Homo sapiens: one gene and its partners. The protein of the gene in region 1 binds, or shares a complex with, the protein of each later gene. Each region holds a gene or a part of one and is shown in the gene's direction. Other genes may lie near its edges. The genes, in order: AMFR, UBE2G2 and VCP.

What was found.
Region 2: the proteins of AMFR (region 1) and UBE2G2 are in contact, whole or in part, in an NMR structure (PDB 2LXP), measured with the Homo sapiens proteins. Residues at the interface, in NP_001135.3 of Homo sapiens: Ser574, Ala575, Arg578, Gln579, Met581, Leu582, Arg585, Lys586, Leu589, Leu590, Ala593, Arg594, Arg596, Phe597, Leu598, Lys600; in NP_003334.2 of Homo sapiens: Tyr13, Leu16, Thr17, Pro20, Gly23, Ile24, Val25, Ala26, Gly27, Pro28, Met29, Asn30, Glu31, Glu38, Leu40, Met42, Glu45, Glu50, Phe51, Val53, Val159, Gln160, Leu163, Gly164, Leu165.
Region 3: the proteins of AMFR (region 1) and VCP are in contact, whole or in part, in a crystal structure (PDB 3TIW), measured with the Homo sapiens proteins. Residues at the interface, in NP_001135.3 of Homo sapiens: Arg625, Arg626, Arg627, Met628, Leu629, Ala630, Ala631, Ala632, Ala633, Glu634, Arg635, Arg636, Leu637; in NP_009057.1 of Homo sapiens: Asn33 (codon at 1,485), Asp35 (codon at 1,491), Ser37 (codon at 1,497), Val38 (codon at 1,500), Phe52 (codon at 1,729), Arg53 (codon at 1,732), Gly54 (codon at 1,735), Asp55 (codon at 1,738), Thr56 (codon at 1,741), Ile70 (codon at 1,783), Leu72 (codon at 1,789), Pro106 (codon at 2,964), Val108 (codon at 2,970), Lys109 (codon at 2,973), Tyr110 (codon at 2,976), Glu141 (codon at 3,069), Ala142 (codon at 3,072), Tyr143 (codon at 3,075), Arg144 (codon at 3,078), Ile175 (codon at 4,464).

Annotation. Positions count from the first base shown.
Region 1 is NC_000016.10:56,401,546-56,408,545, reverse strand, and holds part of AMFR (E3 ubiquitin-protein ligase AMFR), read left to right. Parts: intron 1-429; coding exon 430-582; intron 583-3,301; coding exon 3,302-3,342; intron 3,343-3,504; coding exon 3,505-3,637; intron 3,638-5,427; coding exon 5,428-5,561; intron 5,562-6,702; coding exon 6,703-6,813; intron 6,814-7,000. UniProt on the Homo sapiens protein: E3 ubiquitin-protein ligase that mediates the polyubiquitination of lysine and cysteine residues on target proteins, such as CD3D, CYP3A4, CFTR, INSIG1, SOAT2/ACAT2 and APOB for proteasomal degradation.
Region 2 is NC_000021.9:44,768,013-44,770,938, reverse strand, and holds the end of UBE2G2 (ubiquitin-conjugating enzyme E2 G2), read left to right. Parts: 3' UTR 1-2,359; downstream 2,360-2,926. UniProt on the Homo sapiens protein: Accepts ubiquitin from the E1 complex and catalyzes its covalent attachment to other proteins. In vitro catalyzes 'Lys-48'-linked polyubiquitination. Involved in endoplasmic reticulum-associated degradation (ERAD).
Region 3 is NC_000009.12:35,062,583-35,069,767, reverse strand, and holds part of VCP (transitional endoplasmic reticulum ATPase), read left to right. Parts: intron 1-1,405; coding exon 1,406-1,517; intron 1,518-1,704; coding exon 1,705-1,877; intron 1,878-2,950; coding exon 2,951-3,093; intron 3,094-4,386; coding exon 4,387-4,517; intron 4,518-5,482; coding exon 5,483-5,614; intron 5,615-6,687; coding exon 6,688-6,790; intron 6,791-7,185. UniProt on the Homo sapiens protein: Necessary for the fragmentation of Golgi stacks during mitosis and for their reassembly after mitosis. Involved in the formation of the transitional endoplasmic reticulum (tER).

The DNA of each region.
Region 1 (7,000 bases):
CAATTGTGCTAGCCCTAATAGACTAGGAATGCCAATTTCAGAGAGGAGGACTAGAGCAAGATTGAGAAAGAAACAGAACAGAACAGGCACTGTCCTGAGTCCTGTTGAAGGTGAGAGGAGAGAGTTGTATACCCTCGGAACATTGCTTCTAGAGGTTTATAATCCCAGTGCTAGGAGGATCTTTGAGAGTAAGGGATGAAAATATAATGCATATTGTTATACTCAGTAAATTAAATGACACGGATCTCTAAATATCACCTCATGCTCATATTTGGGTTATTGGAGAATAGGACCATATAGTAATGGGATGCTTTTCTGTGCTTAGCACAGAACCCTAAGCAGAGAAGCCAAGATTGACCTTGAATTTCTCAGTGAAGTTTAACACTTCCATGAAGAAGAATGAGCAGTTTCCTACTGTGTGCATTTCAGCTTTCCTTCTCGCCCACCACGCCGATGAGCAGCCACGGTCGAGTCCTGTCCCTGTTGGTTGCCATGCTGCTTTCCTGCTGTGGACTGGCGGCCGTCTGCTCCATCACCGGCTACACCCACGGAATGCACACCTTGGCTTTCATGGCTGCAGAGGTGAGATACTGGATGCAGGACTTGCTCAGATTGTATTTCTGTCTGTTTTCAAGGAAGCTGGATGTTTGACAAGTTATTTTCACCCATGAAATGACAGGTGGATATTTGGTCTTTCATTTTAACAAGCATTTCAGTTCCTTTTTGTGTGTTGGGTACTGGTACTGAATGCTTTTGTGTGGTATTTTATGTAACTCTTTCTTTACGTAGGGTATAAAGATTTTACAAAATAATGAATAAACTGTACTCATCATTTTGAAGGAAAAATCTGGTCTATTCATGAATATTTTAAGATTTAAAAATTTTTCACTCTTTTAAACCTTTCTGAAAATACCAATTTCTGTTCAGTAGAAATAAAAATTCTCCAGCCTGGCCAATATGGTGAAACCCTGTCTCTACTAAAAATACAAAAAAAAAATTAGTTGGGCGTGGTGGCGCACGTCTGTAGTCCCACCTGCTTGGGAAGCTGAGGCAGGAGAATTGCTTGAACCCGGGAGGCGGAGGTTGCAGTGAGCAGACATTGCGCCACTGCACTCCAGCCTGGGTGACAGAGCGAGACTCCATCTCAAAAAAAAAAAGAAATAAAAATTGTTTGTATGTCCTTATATTTAATGGCTATATTTGCCTTTTCTTCAGGCCAAAGGCAAAATACTTTTATCTTACCCATAATTAGTATTATTAATTAAAAAATGAGATATTAGATAAACTGAAGCTAATTGGCTAATATCAAAACACTACATTTGAACTACTCATTGGGAATTTGGTAGAGCAGAGTTAAAGTTTATTTCTGTTTGATAGCATTCATTTTTGAGTACATTTAGTAGTGTAAGTAAAATTAGAAAAGAAACATTTAAATACATAATGTTAATTATCATATTATAATATTGTAATTAAAATACAATAGTCCTAATATAAATAATAAGATATGTAATCTTAGGTGAATACTTCTGTATATGAAAAATATACAACCGTATTTCGTCTTGACAGAAAATCTGTTGAAAAATCCATTTACACTGACTTATTTGCTTTAGATTTATTGCAAAGTTAGAATGATACTTATGTTTGCCTTTTTTTGATTCTCTAACTTTCAACTAATATAATATTATCCAAACTTTGAAAAGGGTATACCTAAAAATAAGCACATTTAACTTAGGCCCGTCAGCTCATACTATAGTATATACTTTTATTTTAGCTTGTTACTGTTTATTCTTTTAAGATAATTTATCATATTACAGATTTGATATTTTAAACTAAATCATTTCTTACATTCATAGTGTTTCTCTCTCCTGTAAAATATTTTTCACTTACAAATGGGAATTTAATCTAAAACATAAATAATGTAATAGTTTTATTCTACTAGATTAAGAGGACTTTTTTTCTTAATGAAAAATATCTTTTTTTTTTTTTTTTTTTTGAGACAAGGTGTCACTCTGTTGCCCGGGCTGGAGTGCAGTTGCTTACTGCAACTTCCACCTTGTGGGCTCAAGTGATCCTCTCATTTCCTTAGTAGCTGGGACCACAGGCATGAACCACCATGCCTGGCTAATTTTTGATTTTTTTGTAGAGATGGGGTTTTGCCATGTTACCAGGCTGGTCTTGAACTCCTGAGATCAAGCAGTCGGCCTGCCTCGACCTCCCAAAGTGCTGGGATTACAGGTGTGAGCCACTGTACCTGGCCGTCAATTTCTGTAATAAAAAAAATACCCTTCAAGACCAGCCTAGCCAACATAGCAAGACCTTGTCTCTACAAAAAAAAAAAAAAAAGCCATGAGAGACTTATTTTGTCCCTCTCCTCTCCTCCCCTCTCCTCTCTCCTCTCCTCTCTCCTCTCCTCTCTCCCCTCTCCCCCCTCCCCTCCCCCCTCTCCCCCTCTCCCCCCTCTCCCCCCTCCCCCTCCTCTCTCTCCCCTCTCCTCCCCTCCCCCCTCCCCTCTCCCCTCTCCCCTTCCACTTCTTCCCCTTCCCCTTCCCTTCTGACAGGGTCTGGGGTCTGGCTCTCTCACCCAGGCTGGAGTGCTGTGGTGCGATCTCTGCTTACTGCAGCCTCCACCTCCCAGGTTCAATCCATCCTTCCACCTCTGCCTCCCAAGTAGCTGGGACTACTGGCACGTGCCACCATGCCCACCTAATTTTTGTATTTTTTGTAGAGATGGGGTTTCACCATGTTGCCCAGGCTGGTTTTGAACTCCTAAGCTTGAGCAATCCTCCTGCCTCGGTCTCCCAAAGTGCTGGGATTAAAGGTGTGATGTGGCTGGCCTTATTTTGCTTTTGATTGCTTTCGTTCTTTTTTCTGCTGGTGGACAAAGGGAGTGCACAAAGCACTAGGGAGAGAGCAGGTCCTCGTGTCTAGGATAGCAGTACCTGAACTATACTTGGAGTTACAGCATCACCCTTCTAAGTAATCAGTGATAGTGACTTAATGCTGTGTGAAATAGAATTGATGGTCAGACTACCAGGGTAAACCTCAAGATTGTAGGGGGATTCCTGGGGGGTAGGTGTAATTGGTTGTCACCTATTAACAGGACTTTTCCTCAATAAAAGTTGGGTTTCTAGGTCATAAAAATATTTTACAGAAATTTGAAGCAGAGAAAATAAAATAATGGGTAAACTTGAACAATCTGCTTTTTAATTGAACTGAGAAATGTTTGTCTTTTATCATTTTATAAAAAGTTTGGCCTGAGCAATGCTACATTTTACTAAAAAGAAAATATCCTTTTTTATAGTCTCTTCTTGTGACAGTGAGGACTGCTCATGTGATTTTACGGTGAGTGAAATTGGGGAGGGAGGTGATGGAGGCCTACTCATACAGTTGATTTTAAGATGTAGCAGGTATGAAATATATAAAAATCGGACTAAATTACAACATGGTTAAACCAAATTCAGTAGTAACAGTAAATTACTAAGGTGTTTTCTCTCTTCATTACAGATACGTAATTCACCTCTGGGACCTCAACCACGAAGGGACGTGGGAAGGAAAGGGGACGTATGTCTATTACACAGACTTTGTCATGGAGCTCACTCTCCTGTCCCTGGACCTCATGCACCATATTCACATGTTGGTAAGTTTCCTCAGAAGGAGCTCTAACAGAGGGCAAGCCTTTCAGAATCAGGAACAGTAATGGTTTCTTCATTAAAAAATGAAACTTTAGAAATAAGATGTGGATGGACTACTTAAAGACTAAAAATGAATGTGGCTGCAAACCCTCCCTCTTTTTGCCACTGGGTGTAAGGCAGTGCCATGGAACTGCTTTGGCTGGTGCCTAACTCAGGAGGTGTTTGCTGTCCTGGGAGACTTAGTTAACTCTGCTGACCAAGTCAATAGATTATTCTTTTAGCATGAAATTAAGGAGCTGCCTTTCCCCATAGTTTCTATGGCTTTAAATATTTAGCAGGTACTTTGTAGGTGGTAATGGGAATTCCTGCAGTGTTAGCTACTTCACAGATTTATACATTTTCCATCTTTGTAATTAAAAAAAGTCTTTACACTTAATTCCTACATTCCTACTACCATCATTGTTTACATTTTACTTTGGTATGTTAGACGTTACGGTGTCGTAGATCTGCTTCATTGGTTGGCCCTTCAGTGATCTAATAATGGTGAGAATTAAAATAGTTGGTGGGCAATTTATTTAAATTATAAGCCTAGCAAGTAGCATTTTAAAATTATTGGGCTAGACGTGGCACATTTCTAAGTCTACTTTTTGAAAGAAACTTTGAAAACATACTTTTTAAAGAAAGTATGTAATTCTTTTTTTTAAAAAAGAGCCTCGGCTGGACGCGGTGGCTCATGCCTGTAATCCCAGCTACTGGGGAGGCTGAGGCAGAGAATTGCTTGAACCTGGGAAATGGAGGTTGCAGTGAGCTGAGATCGCGCCACTGTACTCTATCCTGGGCGACAGGGTGACACTCCGTCCCAAAAAAAAAAAAAAAGCCTCCCTCCCCCCTCAAAAAGGGGACAAACAAATGGCCAAAGATAACTGTTAAGATTTTTTATCTTCTTTTTTTAAATTTTTTTTCCTCATGCTTGTATTTTTTGTATTTAACTGCTTCTTTTTATGTATTTTTTGTATTTATGTATTTTGTATTTTTATGTATTTTGTATTTAACTGATTCTTTTTATGTATTTGAGTACATACATTCATAAATTGAGATCATATTTTAGACATATAGTTCTGTTCTTTAAAAACTAATGTATTATGAACATTTTCCTGTGCTAACATCAGTTCTTCTAAGCCATTTTAATACTTTCAGGATAAAAATATCATCAGATAGCTGTACCATGATTTAATAAACCGCATCCCACAATGGGTTATTTAGATTATATTTGGTTGTTTGCTATTTCACATTTTACATATTTTTTATCATGTATTAGTTTGATAAAGATAGTTATATCTTGCTTTTTTCATTTATCTAGTACTATCTTCCCATAATTGACCTTCAGAACTGTTATATATACAAATATAATAGTAATATGTAGTTATATAGTATAATAAGTGAAATTAATGACTATATAATTTTACATTACATGAGTTTACAACCTAACTGTTCTTCTGGGCATTTTGTTCATTTTCATATTTTCTGTTTTATAATTGCATGGATAGACATCTTTTTGCATAAAGCTTTTCCATTTCTGATGAGTTTCTCAGGAAAGATGACTGGCATTGGAGCACCTAGGCTGACGAGGATGTGCATTGTTTAGAGTAATGAGATAAATCTGTGTATTTCCTTTCTGAAAGACATTGCAGTTCACCATCACCAACAGTGAAGAGCTTCCGCTGCATACTGCGCCTTCATCACTAGCAAGTTCACGTTCGCTTTTACCGTGTGTTTTATTCTCTTTCTCTCTAAGTTATTTGGCAACATCTGGTTATCCATGGCCAGCCTGGTCATCTTTATGCAGCTGCGTTACCTGTTTCATGAGGTGCAACGTCGAATTCGTCGGCACAAGAACTATCTACGTGTGGTTGGAAACATGGAGGCCAGGTAAGGAAGCACAAGTTGATGTTGCCTAAGTTTACTCATTTTAGTTTTTTAATAACAGCAGATCCCAGAGTATGTCAGAATGTATGTTTGTAAACTGCTAATAGAGTGGTGGAGAGGAAAGGCTCTGGAGTCAGACTGCCCGGGTGTGAATCCCCACTTAGGTGCTGTGTGATTTGGGGCAATTTACTTCACCTCTAAATTAGGGATGAAAACAGAACCTTCTGCCTGAACTATTGGGAGAATTTGGTGAGATAATTCATGTACTTAGAATGGTACTGGGCAGATAGTGCTCAGTATTAGGCTCTTATTTGTCATGATTTTATTGTCATTATTATCAAATAGACACTTCATTGGGCTTCTACCCTGTTCATTTCCTGAAAGTGGGTCTCAGTTCTTTGCACATGCATGTTTACACACACATACTTAACCTCATTGAAGGAGGCACTTTTTTGCCAAGCTGGGGCTAAGCCACGCCTGGAGGTGCAAGATTAATGGGTATCCTCTTTGCACCCAGGGGGACAGCTTGGATCTCTTCTTTGTGGCCAGGGACACAGATTGGATCTCTGGGGGCCTTACTCCTCTGATTTGTCCGGATATGGTCTCCGAGGTCTTCACTAACAGCAGCCATTATTATTATTATTATTATTATTTTGGAGATGGAGTCTCACTCACCCAGGCTGGAGTGCAGTGGCACAATCTCAGCTCACTGCAACCTCCGCCTCCCAGGTTGAAGTAAGTCTCCTGCCTCAGCCTCCTGAGTAGCTGGGATTGCAGGCGCCTGTCACCACGCCCGGCTAATTTTTGCATTTTTAGTAGAGACGGGGTTTCACCATGTTGGTTAGGCTGGTCTTGAACTCCTGACCTCATGATCCCCCTACCTCGGCCTCCGAAAGTGCTGGGATTACAGGTATAAGCCACCGCGCTCGGCCTAGCAACCATTATTTAGACAAAGTTCCTGTGCATAAGTTACTCACTTTTGAAAGGGCTTTGAAGGTAAATTATATTTTTGATTATCAAGAATGTTTTGCTGAACATGCTTTCTCTGTAACTGTGTTGTGATACAGGCGCAGTCTATCAAGTGGTGTTTAGTGTGCGTGTGGAACTGACTGAGGTTCCTGCTGGGCTTGTTTTGTTTCCACAGGTTTGCAGTTGCAACTCCAGAGGAGCTGGCTGTCAACAATGACGACTGTGCCATCTGTTGGGACTCCATGCAGGCTGCGCGGAAACTGCCCTGTGGACATCTTTTCCACAAGTAGGAGCTTTGTGAAGGGCCATGTGGGACAGGTGTTCTGTCCAGGGCGTGTGTGTGCTTTGTGTACCCAGGCTCGAGACTCATCCTAGTGGAGGAGTGGGGACATTACCTCAGCCTGGCCTTGCTGCTGGCACTGAGTGTTCTGGGAAGCTCTTGGGTATCCTTCTTTGTTCCTTAGCCTCTTCCC
Region 2 (2,926 bases), on another chromosome or scaffold:
TTTCTGGGTCCTTCCTGGTTCCCTGTGGGCCCCATGAGGAGTCCATTACTTCCTTTCTTCCTTCATATTTTACAGGCAGATGCTTTTCTTATAATCTAATTACATCTTTTCATTTGTTATATATTACAAACCATCACACTTAGAAATACTTCCAGGAAATGCTTTTTTGAAGTGTGAATTAATAAGAAATGGGGTAAATAGAAAAGAAATTTATTGCTGATTGGCCAGGTGCGGTGGTTCGTGCCTGTAATCCCAGCTCTTTGGGAGGCCAAGGCAGGTAGATCACAAGGTCAGGAAATTGAGACCATCCTGGCTAATACAGTGAAACCCCATGTCTGCTAAAATTACAAAAAATTAGCTGGGCGTGGTGGTGCACGCCTGTAGTCTCAGCTACTCAGGAGGCTGAGGCAGGAGAATCGCTTGAACCCGGGAGGCAGAGGTAGCAGTGAGCTGAAGTCCCGCCACTGCACTCCAGCCTGGGCAACAGAGCGAGACTCAGTCTCAAAAAGAAAAAAGAAATTTATTGCTGATCACAAGGACAGACAGTTTTTTCCCGACCATACTCATCAAAGATTTACGTTTGTATATTAGTAACTAGTGCATTACTAGAGCAGGTGCAGGTGAGGTCTTTAAAGTTTCAATGAAAGTTTCTTCTGGATCTACAGAAAAAATTTTTTTTTTTCAATCTAAAAACTGGAAATTCTAGGGTTTTTGTACATTTTGGATGCACTGGGAATTTATTAGCACAAAATCATTCTTTGCAACTCAAAATTCAGAAGGGACTCTACCATATCTTAGCTCAGAGCACAGAGGAGTGCCTTATCCCCACACTTGACTGGGCTGTGGAGGTGGGCATGTGGGCCCCTGGGCCCAGGCTGGGGACAGAGCCCTTGTTTTGTGACTTAGGATTTTGATGTGGTTCCCATGTTCTCTAACAGGGCCAGCTGAGCAGCACAGGCCAGGAGGCCACAGTGTAAGCAATAACAGATCTGCCACATGCAGAAGCAAATATCAGGCCTGTCGCACACGGGCGGCATTTAAATAGGAATTTCTATTTTTGAAATAAGGGATGGTCTATGAGGCATACAGTAGATTTGATGTGATCCTTTTCTCCCTCCCTTCCATAATGGATCGTGGTCTGTGTGACTGAACCCACACAGAGTGTCATGGGTGACAGTTTCTGGTTGAAGTAGCTCCACGCCTGGCTTCTGTGGACAGCAGATTCTTTTCCTTCTCACAAGGGGCTCATTTAAAATTTGGAGGCTGGGTGCTGTGGCTCACGCCTGCAATCCCAGCACTTTGGGAGACTGAGGCGGGCGGATCATGAGGTCAGGAGATCGCGACCATCCTGGCTAACAGTGAAACCCTGTCTCCACTAAAAATACAAAAAATTAGCCGGGCGTGGTGGCGGGCGCCTGTAGTCCCAGCTACTCTGAAGACTGAGGCAGGAGAATGGCGTGAACCCAGGAGGCGGAGCTTGCAGTGAGCTGAGATCACGCCACTGCACTCCAGCCTGGGCAACAGAGTGAGACTCTGTCTCAAAAAAAAAAAAAAAAAAAATGGAACGCAGGGCAAGAACTCGTATTTGGAAGGAGATGGGGGAAAGGAGCGGTATTATACCTATGTTGTATTTGCAGGCAAATGAGATGGAGCCCTCTCTGTAAAGAAGAGTCATTTGTGCAAGTAGACGGGGTCTGTGGGTGCAGGCCCTGGAGGGGCACACAATTGCCTGGAGGCTTCTGTGAGATCGGGAGAGGGAGGAGAGGCAGTCTCTTGACAAAATAAAGTATTTTTATTCATTTGTATTTATTAAATGAAAAAACAATCCCATGGTGTCCCTGTTGTGTGGTGGAACCTAATGACTGTTGAAATAAAGTTCTGTGTTTTCCCTGCCCTGCAGTGTGTGTCCCTTTGTCGTATTGTCAGAGGAGCCTGTGGCCACTGCCCCCAGGGAGCACACCAGATCATCCCAGCTGGGATTCCTCACGGTGGGGGCTTTTCTGCAGACTTGGGTTAGCTCTGGCATGTTTTCTTCTGTTTCTGATCTCCCTTCTGTCATTCTGTGGTCTTCCTCTGGAATTCTCAGGTTAGTTGGGGTCTGTGAGACGGATGTGTTCACTAACCTATAAATGACATTTTGCAGCTTTTTCAGCAGATGCCATTGTGTGAGTGGCACATTTGACCACTAGAAGCCAGCAGGCTGTTCCGACTGCGCTTCCCTCCTGCAGTTGCTTAGAAGCACAGCTCCCTGTCATCACTCCTCTGTGGTCCTCTGTGGTCACGGTTGGTTGCGATGAGACCTGCCTCTGCGTCTTGTTACTTAGCATGTCAATAAAGAGGCAGATTCCTGTGTCAGTGATTTGCTGTTTCTGTTTTGGTAGTTGGCGGTCAGCTTTCCTTTGTAATCCTGTGAGGCAGGGTCCCCAGGCTTCCCCAGGTGCTGGCGCCTCGTTCCCTGGGCTGGTTCCCAGGCTGCTCCTGGTGGGGTGCACTGGGCGAGTGCCTCAGCACAGGCCCCCAGGCATGTCTGTTCTGCCCTTTGCCCAGTGTTCTCACTAAGCATTCTTTTTAATGGGTAAGAACTCTAATGTGATACTGAGTTGGGGTCCCCAAGACCACCCAGGGCGGCGATTCTCCAGGAGGACAGAGGCCATGCAGGTCACGGTAGTCACGGCTGTGATTTCCCACAGGGAGGACACTGAGCAAAATCGGCCAAGGGAAAGGTTCCTGGGGCCGAGTCCAGGGGCACCATGCTCAGCTTTGGAGGCCTCTCCTGGGGTGGGGGTCACGCAGGATGCGCCTCACTCCCCTGCAAGCAGCTGGGACTCTGCGTGTGCGATGTTGGGGATGCCCTGCCTGGTGATGTACCCGGGGGCTGGTCACGTGAGCAGCTTCTGCCTGGGCTGCGCTACAATTCCAGACTCTC
Region 3 (7,185 bases), on another chromosome or scaffold:
CTTAAAAAAGAGAGAGCGCTGGGTGCTGTGGCTCACGCCTGTAATCCCAGTACTTTGGGAGGCCGAGGTGGGCAGATCACCTGAGGTCAGGAGTTCGAGACCAGCCTGACCACCATGGTGAAACCCCATCTCTAGTAAAAATGCAAAATTAGCCAGGTGTGGTGGCGCATGCCTGTAATCCCAGCTACTCGGGAGGCTGAGGCAGGAGAATCACTTGAACCCGGGAGGTGGAGGTTGCAGTTAGCTGAGATCGCAGCATTGCATTCCAGCCTGGACAACAAAAGCGAAACTCCATCTCAAAAAAAAAAAAAAAAAAAAAAAAAGGGAGAGGGAGCTTGCTGAGTCTAGTAAGTGACAGCTGGAAACGGGCTAGGTAATAAGTTGGTGTCACTGTCTGGTGAATGATCCTAGCTTCTAGGAAATAACACTGAGTGTAGACCCAGTCGACTTTGATTTGGGTGAGAGGGATTTGGATTTGCCCCATGTCTCAGCATTTCTTGGTTTTGATTTTTTGAGCCAACTTTATGGAATTGTGTACTTTTGCAGATATTACTGTGAAGTTCCTTTTGACCTTGAGCCTCTTTCTGGCGGTTTGATGTCTGTTAGTGTTTTTTCCAAATATGATGGTCTTTATGCTTGGCATTCCTTTGGTACTATGGAATGCCCTGGCATCAGTAGGTTTAGCCTATAAGGAGGGTAGCACCAATGATTCTGCTTCGTTGTCCCCAGGCTTGCTTGGTAGAACTTAAGGCCTCCCTGAGCCTCAAGGGAGGTTGTCTGGCTTACTTAATTCCCTGGAAAGTTAGCTTATGCTTTACTCTATACTGTTAATCATGGTGACCATTAATACCATGTGCCAGGTATTATGTTAAGCATTTTACATTCATTATCTCCCTTAAGACAATAAGCCTCTGAGATAAGTATTATATTCCTTCTTTTATAGAGGAGGACATCAAAGTTCAGAGGTTAGGTAACTTGCCCAAGATCACAATTAAGCAGTGGCATAATTGGAATTCAGACCCAATGGGTCTGACTATAGAGTTCCTGCTCTTAACCACTCTTCTGTAAGTCTAAGACTATTTTTATTTCTCTAACAACTATTCAGCCTCCATTTCTATTATGTCTTCTTCTTAGGCCATTATTTTCTGACCCTGGGGCAGGATCACTCACTTGGGGCCTTATAGCTGGGACACTGACGCTCAAAATACCAGGAGCTGCTGGAATGGGTATTGTAATATGTATGGTAGATACTGCTCCTCGTGACCTTGGCTGCCTTTCCTTCATCTGAGCTTTCTGGTCTAGGGACAGCTTCATCTATTCACTGTTTCTTTCCTAAGTATGAGTTTTAGAGACTGGCGAGGCGCTTGGGGCAGGAGTATCTACTGACTCCATTTCCTCCTTCTAGTTCAAAAGGTGATGACCTATCAACAGCCATTCTCAAACAGAAGAACCGTCCCAATCGGTTAATTGTTGATGAAGCCATCAATGAGGACAACAGTGTGGTGTCCTTGTCCCAGGTAAGCTGTGGCCACAGACTAGTCTTTCCTTACTGCACTTACTTGAGGGATTTTCCCAGGTTTCTTTTCTCATTTTTCTTGCAGTGACTGCAGATAGAGTGGGGTTTACTGGGAATCCCAATCTCCAGGGCTGCTGCTTACTCCCCGTCAGCCCAATGACCCAAAGGCCTTAACTTTCTTTCCTCAGCCCAAGATGGATGAATTGCAGTTGTTCCGAGGTGACACAGTGTTGCTGAAAGGAAAGAAGAGACGAGAAGCTGTTTGCATCGTCCTTTCTGATGATACTTGTTCTGATGAGAAGATTCGGATGAATAGAGTTGTTCGGAATAACCTTCGTGTACGCCTAGGGGATGTCATCAGGTGTGTGTGGGGTTTTTGGCTTCACAGGGATGGGAGGCCAGAGATAGCCTGCATTACAGGCAGGACCCATGTATTACAGGCAGGACCAAGTTCTTGGCACCTGTCGATGCAGGAAGCCTCCTGGTCATGGGAAGACTTATGCTTCAGGGTTGTCTTTAGGTTTTGGTTCTGCCTCCCTGGGACTTCAAAATCCATTTCTGCAGGTCCCTTGAGACAAATTGGCGTTCCTGTAACTTTCTTGATGGCTTTATTTTTTCCTACTAGAGGTGTAATTTATCATACTTATATCCTGGCTTAGGATACCACTCGAGGGTGTGTATGTATATGCCAAATAATCTCCTCACTACTCTCACTAGTATGTCTAATTGATGGCTTGTGTTGGGGTTGGAATGAGGTGGGGGTATGGGCATGGAAGGTGAGCTGCTAGCAGGTCTTTTAAGCCCCTAAGTTAACCCGGGAGAGAGGAATAGTTGGAGCCAGACCTGGGATAGCTCTCAATGTGAGTGATTTTGCTTGTTCTTGCATAATTTTAGGCAAGAGGTTACCCCATCTTGGAGTCATCTCTAGCCACTCCTACCCAACCAACCATCACCTGGCCAGGATCATCTCAGGCTTTTGATTCTTTTGAATGGAGTCTAAGTTTCATGTAGCTTTCTTCTTGGGAGTGCTTAGTCACTTCCTCAAGGTGTTCTGACCACCTGGCTGAGATAATTTTGTTTTTTTCACTTCTGTTTCACTGACCCTGACAATTGTTAGCTTAAGACCTTCCCTTGTAATATTGGGTCACCAGTATTAGCTAGAAGGGGATCATCCTTGGATATCTCCCTGAAGACCCTGCATGTCTTTGTGGGGTTTCTAAATGTGTGGCTCTTGATTTTGGCTCACTGATTAGGAGTGAGTGGGGCTGTTCCTTCGCCCTCACTTCCACCCTGTTCTCCTTCCTCTCTTCGCCTAAAGCCATCCTGCCTTTTCTTTTTCACTTACTATCAGCTATCTGTGCCAGGCCCTTTTGGACACCCAGTGCTTGGGCCCGAAGTGTGGTTGGTAATATGGAGTCTGCTTGTCATCCTCAGCATCCAGCCATGCCCTGATGTGAAGTACGGCAAACGTATCCATGTGCTGCCCATTGATGACACAGTGGAAGGCATTACTGGTAATCTCTTCGAGGTATACCTTAAGCCGTACTTCCTGGAAGCGTATCGACCCATCCGGAAAGGTGAGAGCTAATTCTGAGCTTAAGGATTATTGACTGTAGGGAATAAACCTTGGAACATCTTTATCTCATTTTCTTTTTCTTTTTTTTTTTTTAAATCTTTTATGCTTTTCCCCTGTATTTATTTATTCATTTTTTAAGAGATGGGGTCAGCTGGGCACCGTGGCTCACACCTATAATCCCAGCAATTTGGGAGGCTGAGGCGGGTGGATCACTTGAGGCCAGGAGTTTGAGACCAGCCTGGCCAACATGGCGAAACCCCATCGTGGGCACCTGTAATCCCAGCTACCTGGGAGGCTGAGGCATGAGAATTGCTTGAACCCAAGAGGTGGAGGTTGCAGTGAGCCAAGATTGGGCCACAGTACTGCAGCCTGGGTGACAGAGCAAGACTCTGTCTCAAAAAAAAAAAAAAAGAGACAGGGTCTCACTATGATGCCCAGGCTGGTCTCAAACTGCTGGGCTCAAGTGATCCATCTGCCATGGCCTCCCAAAGTGCTGGGATTACAGGCATGAGCCATCAAGCCTAGTCTCATTTTCTTTTCTTTTTTTTTTGAGACAGAGTGTCGCGCTGTCCCCCAGGCTGGAGCGCAGTGGTGCAATCTCGGCTCACTGCAACCTCCGCCTCCTGGGTTCAAGCAATTCTCCTGCCTCAGCCTCCCAAGTAGCTGGGATTACAGGCGTCTGCCACCACGCCCGGCTAATTTTTGTGTTTTTAGTAGAGACGGGGTTTCACCATGTTGGTCAGGCTCGTCTCGAACTCTTGACCTCAGGTGAGCCACTGTGCCCGGCCGCTAGACTCATTTTCATATATTTGTATACACACACATGCAAACCCTGCACACATATTCATATGTCTTACCCTCTTTTTTTCCTCCATCCTTCCTTTGCTCCATCTCTCCCCTTCTCTGTTCCAGGAGAGTAAGCTATCTTTATGGATCTCTGAAGGAGAAAGTGGTCCATTTTGGCTGGGTCAGGGTCCAGAGTGCACAGTTCTACCATTGGTGGTTGTAGTGAAAACTTGGGCTACCTATATGGCAGAAGTCAGAACTTGATGGGCTTCTGACATGTCAGGTTTTGTTCACTGACCTCTTGTCAGAGGGACTCTTCACAGTTTACCTTTCTCATCTTGCCTGCTGCTTATTAAGACAGGTGGGGTGGAGTTGGGGAGAGGTAGGGCAATATCTAATGAAGGGCACTATCTAATGAGCTTGGCATTTTGACCCCAGGGTCTGATGAGTTCTCACTTTGTCTTGTAGTTGACACCTCTAACTGTGCTTGTACTGTTTGCTCTCGCAGGAGACATTTTTCTTGTCCGTGGTGGGATGCGTGCTGTGGAGTTCAAAGTGGTGGAAACAGATCCTAGCCCTTATTGCATTGTTGCTCCAGACACAGTGATCCACTGCGAAGGGGAGCCTATCAAACGAGAGGTGAGTTTTCTCCCTGATTCCAGTATCCGATTTTATGATTACTCAGTGTGGCATCATGTGGTAACTGTCAGGACTGGGTGCTCGGCCGGCTGCGGTGGCTGACACCTGTAATCCCAGTACTTTGGGAGACTGAGATGGGCAGATCACTTGAGGTCAGGTGTTCAAGACCAGCCTGGGCAACATGGTGAAATCCCATCTCTACTAAAAATACAAAAATTAGCCAGGCATGGTGGTACACATCTGTAATCCCAGCTACTCAGGAGGCTGAGGCAGGAGAATCGGTTGAACCCAGGAGTCGGAGGTTGCAGTGAGCTGAGATTGTGCCACTGCACTCCAGCCTGGGTGACAGAGTGAGACTCTGTCTCAAAAAAGAAAAAGACTGGGTGTTCTTTGGAGAACTAACCATCTTTCAGGGATGAGAAACCTGCCAGCTATTCATTTCTGGGCCTAATTGTTTCTTGGATTTACCTAATGCCAGGAATTTCAAAAAACTAGACTGAACCCAAAATATATAAGTGATTGAAATCATTTTTGAAGTAAAGCTGATGGTGGCTTCAGGCCTCTGCCCATTCCCAGGGTTTCCAGCTTCAGATTTTAGAGACCCCTTCTCAGTAAGACTACGAGTAATGTGAGAGGCAAGGACTGTGCTAGAAATCTTTGCCTTGGGATTTTTGTAGTTGTTCTTTGAGGCCGGATCCCTTTAGAGGAGAATCTTTTTTAAATTTAATTTAATTTTTAATGAGATGGAGTCTTGCTGTATTGCCCAGGAACTCCTGGACTCAAGCATTCCTCCCACCTCTGCCTCCCAAAGTGCTGGGATTACAGATGTGAGCCACCATGCCGGGTTGAGAATCTTCTTATACGGTAGGTTTTTGCACACTAGGTAGTGGAATGATTTAGAGAAACTCAGCTTTTGCTGATATAATATTCTTGCCTTCTCCTTTCTTTATCTCCTCCATATTCAGGATGAGGAAGAGTCCTTGAATGAAGTAGGGTATGATGACATTGGTGGCTGCAGGAAGCAGCTAGCTCAGATAAAGGAGATGGTGGAACTGCCCCTGAGACATCCTGCCCTCTTTAAGGCAATTGGTGTGAAGGTGAGCATCCTGGGCTCTGGAATCAAGTCTAAAGTGGTGCCAATGTCTAATCCTGTCCCAATGTCTAATCCTGGGACTGTTTTCATGCATGGCTTTCATTATTGCCTTGGATTAGAGGGGCAATAACGTATCCTTTAGTTTACCTAAGGCTCTAAATTCATTAGAGCTGATGGTCTAAAACCAGAGTAGGCTAATCAAATTGTCTGTTGTGTGCGTGTGCGCACAAAACACACACACATATATATATGGGTTTTTCTTTACAACTCTTAGAATATAAAAGCCATTCTTGTATCAATGGACCCTGTAAAAACAAATCTCACCATAGTTTGCCAGCCTGTCTAGAGCAATGTCACCCAGTAGAAGTAAGGAAGTTAAGGAAATTTTCAGAGTGTTAAAGGGTTCTGAGTCTAAAACATTTGAGAACTATTGGTCTAGAGTGTAGCTTCTCAATCTTTTCCTAGTGGGAAAGTGTTTCCATGGAACACACTGAAGATGAAGTTACTCATTTTCCTAGTGGGTGGCACACAAATAATTTCATTTTCTATGTGGACAGTTTACATGTTCTGCTTGTGGATGAGGCCATAGAAAGGGTAGTGTTGAAGAAGAAAAATGATGATTGTAAGGAACAGCATTCCAGTGTGATAAATTCTGGAGGGCATGATTACTGGAGTGAGTGATCCTCTGGCAATGAAGAAAATAGACCCTGCTCTCTTAAATGGCTTAGCTAGTCTTTGGCCCTTGGTCTGTCTAAAATTGAGCCCTTAGTGTAATGGCCTCTTGCCTTTCCCTAGTCATGTATCTTCAAACGCATTTGGACTACAGTTTCTCTGCCCTTAGTCTCCTATGCAAGTTGCAATCATAAATGTTGCCCACTTTCTAGCAGTATTTTCCCTGCTAGTAATAGAAATGAGTGTGGCCTAAAGTAATTGTCTTCTTAGCATTTACTGCGGAGGGCTTATTCTTAATATTGTCAGGGTTGAAGCCTGATTCTCACCCTCTCTGGAGCGCTAGTCAAGCCATTTTAGGGTTTGGGAGAAGGTGGGAACCTAATCACACTCTGCATTGGTCCACAGCCTCCTAGAGGAATCCTGCTTTACGGACCTCCTGGAACAGGAAAGACCCTGATTGCTCGAGCTGTAGCAAATGAGACTGGAGCCTTCTTCTTCTTGATCAATGGTGAGATATTTGGTTCATCTTATGTCTAGCTAGACCCAATTTTGAACTGGGCTTATGAGCTGGAGCACTTATGAACACATCCTTTTTGCACCCATGCCCTCCTTCATGTTTATAGCATATTTCTTATGCTGGGGTATGTTACAGACAGAAGAGCAATAAAGGGAAGATATTTTACATTGGTGCTCCCTGTCCTGCCCCCTTTGAGAAAGATTGTGGACAGACTGCAGAGCGGGAGCAAGCTAGAATGAGAAATCAAAGGGTGAATGGTTAGTGATTTGAGAGGGTTTGGGGCAAATGAACTTTGATCACTGGCTCTTGGAGAATGCTGTTTAGTGGTGTGCCATCTGGTGTGCCATCTCTCTTGCTCTAGCCAGAGGTCCTAGAGCATTTGCTGT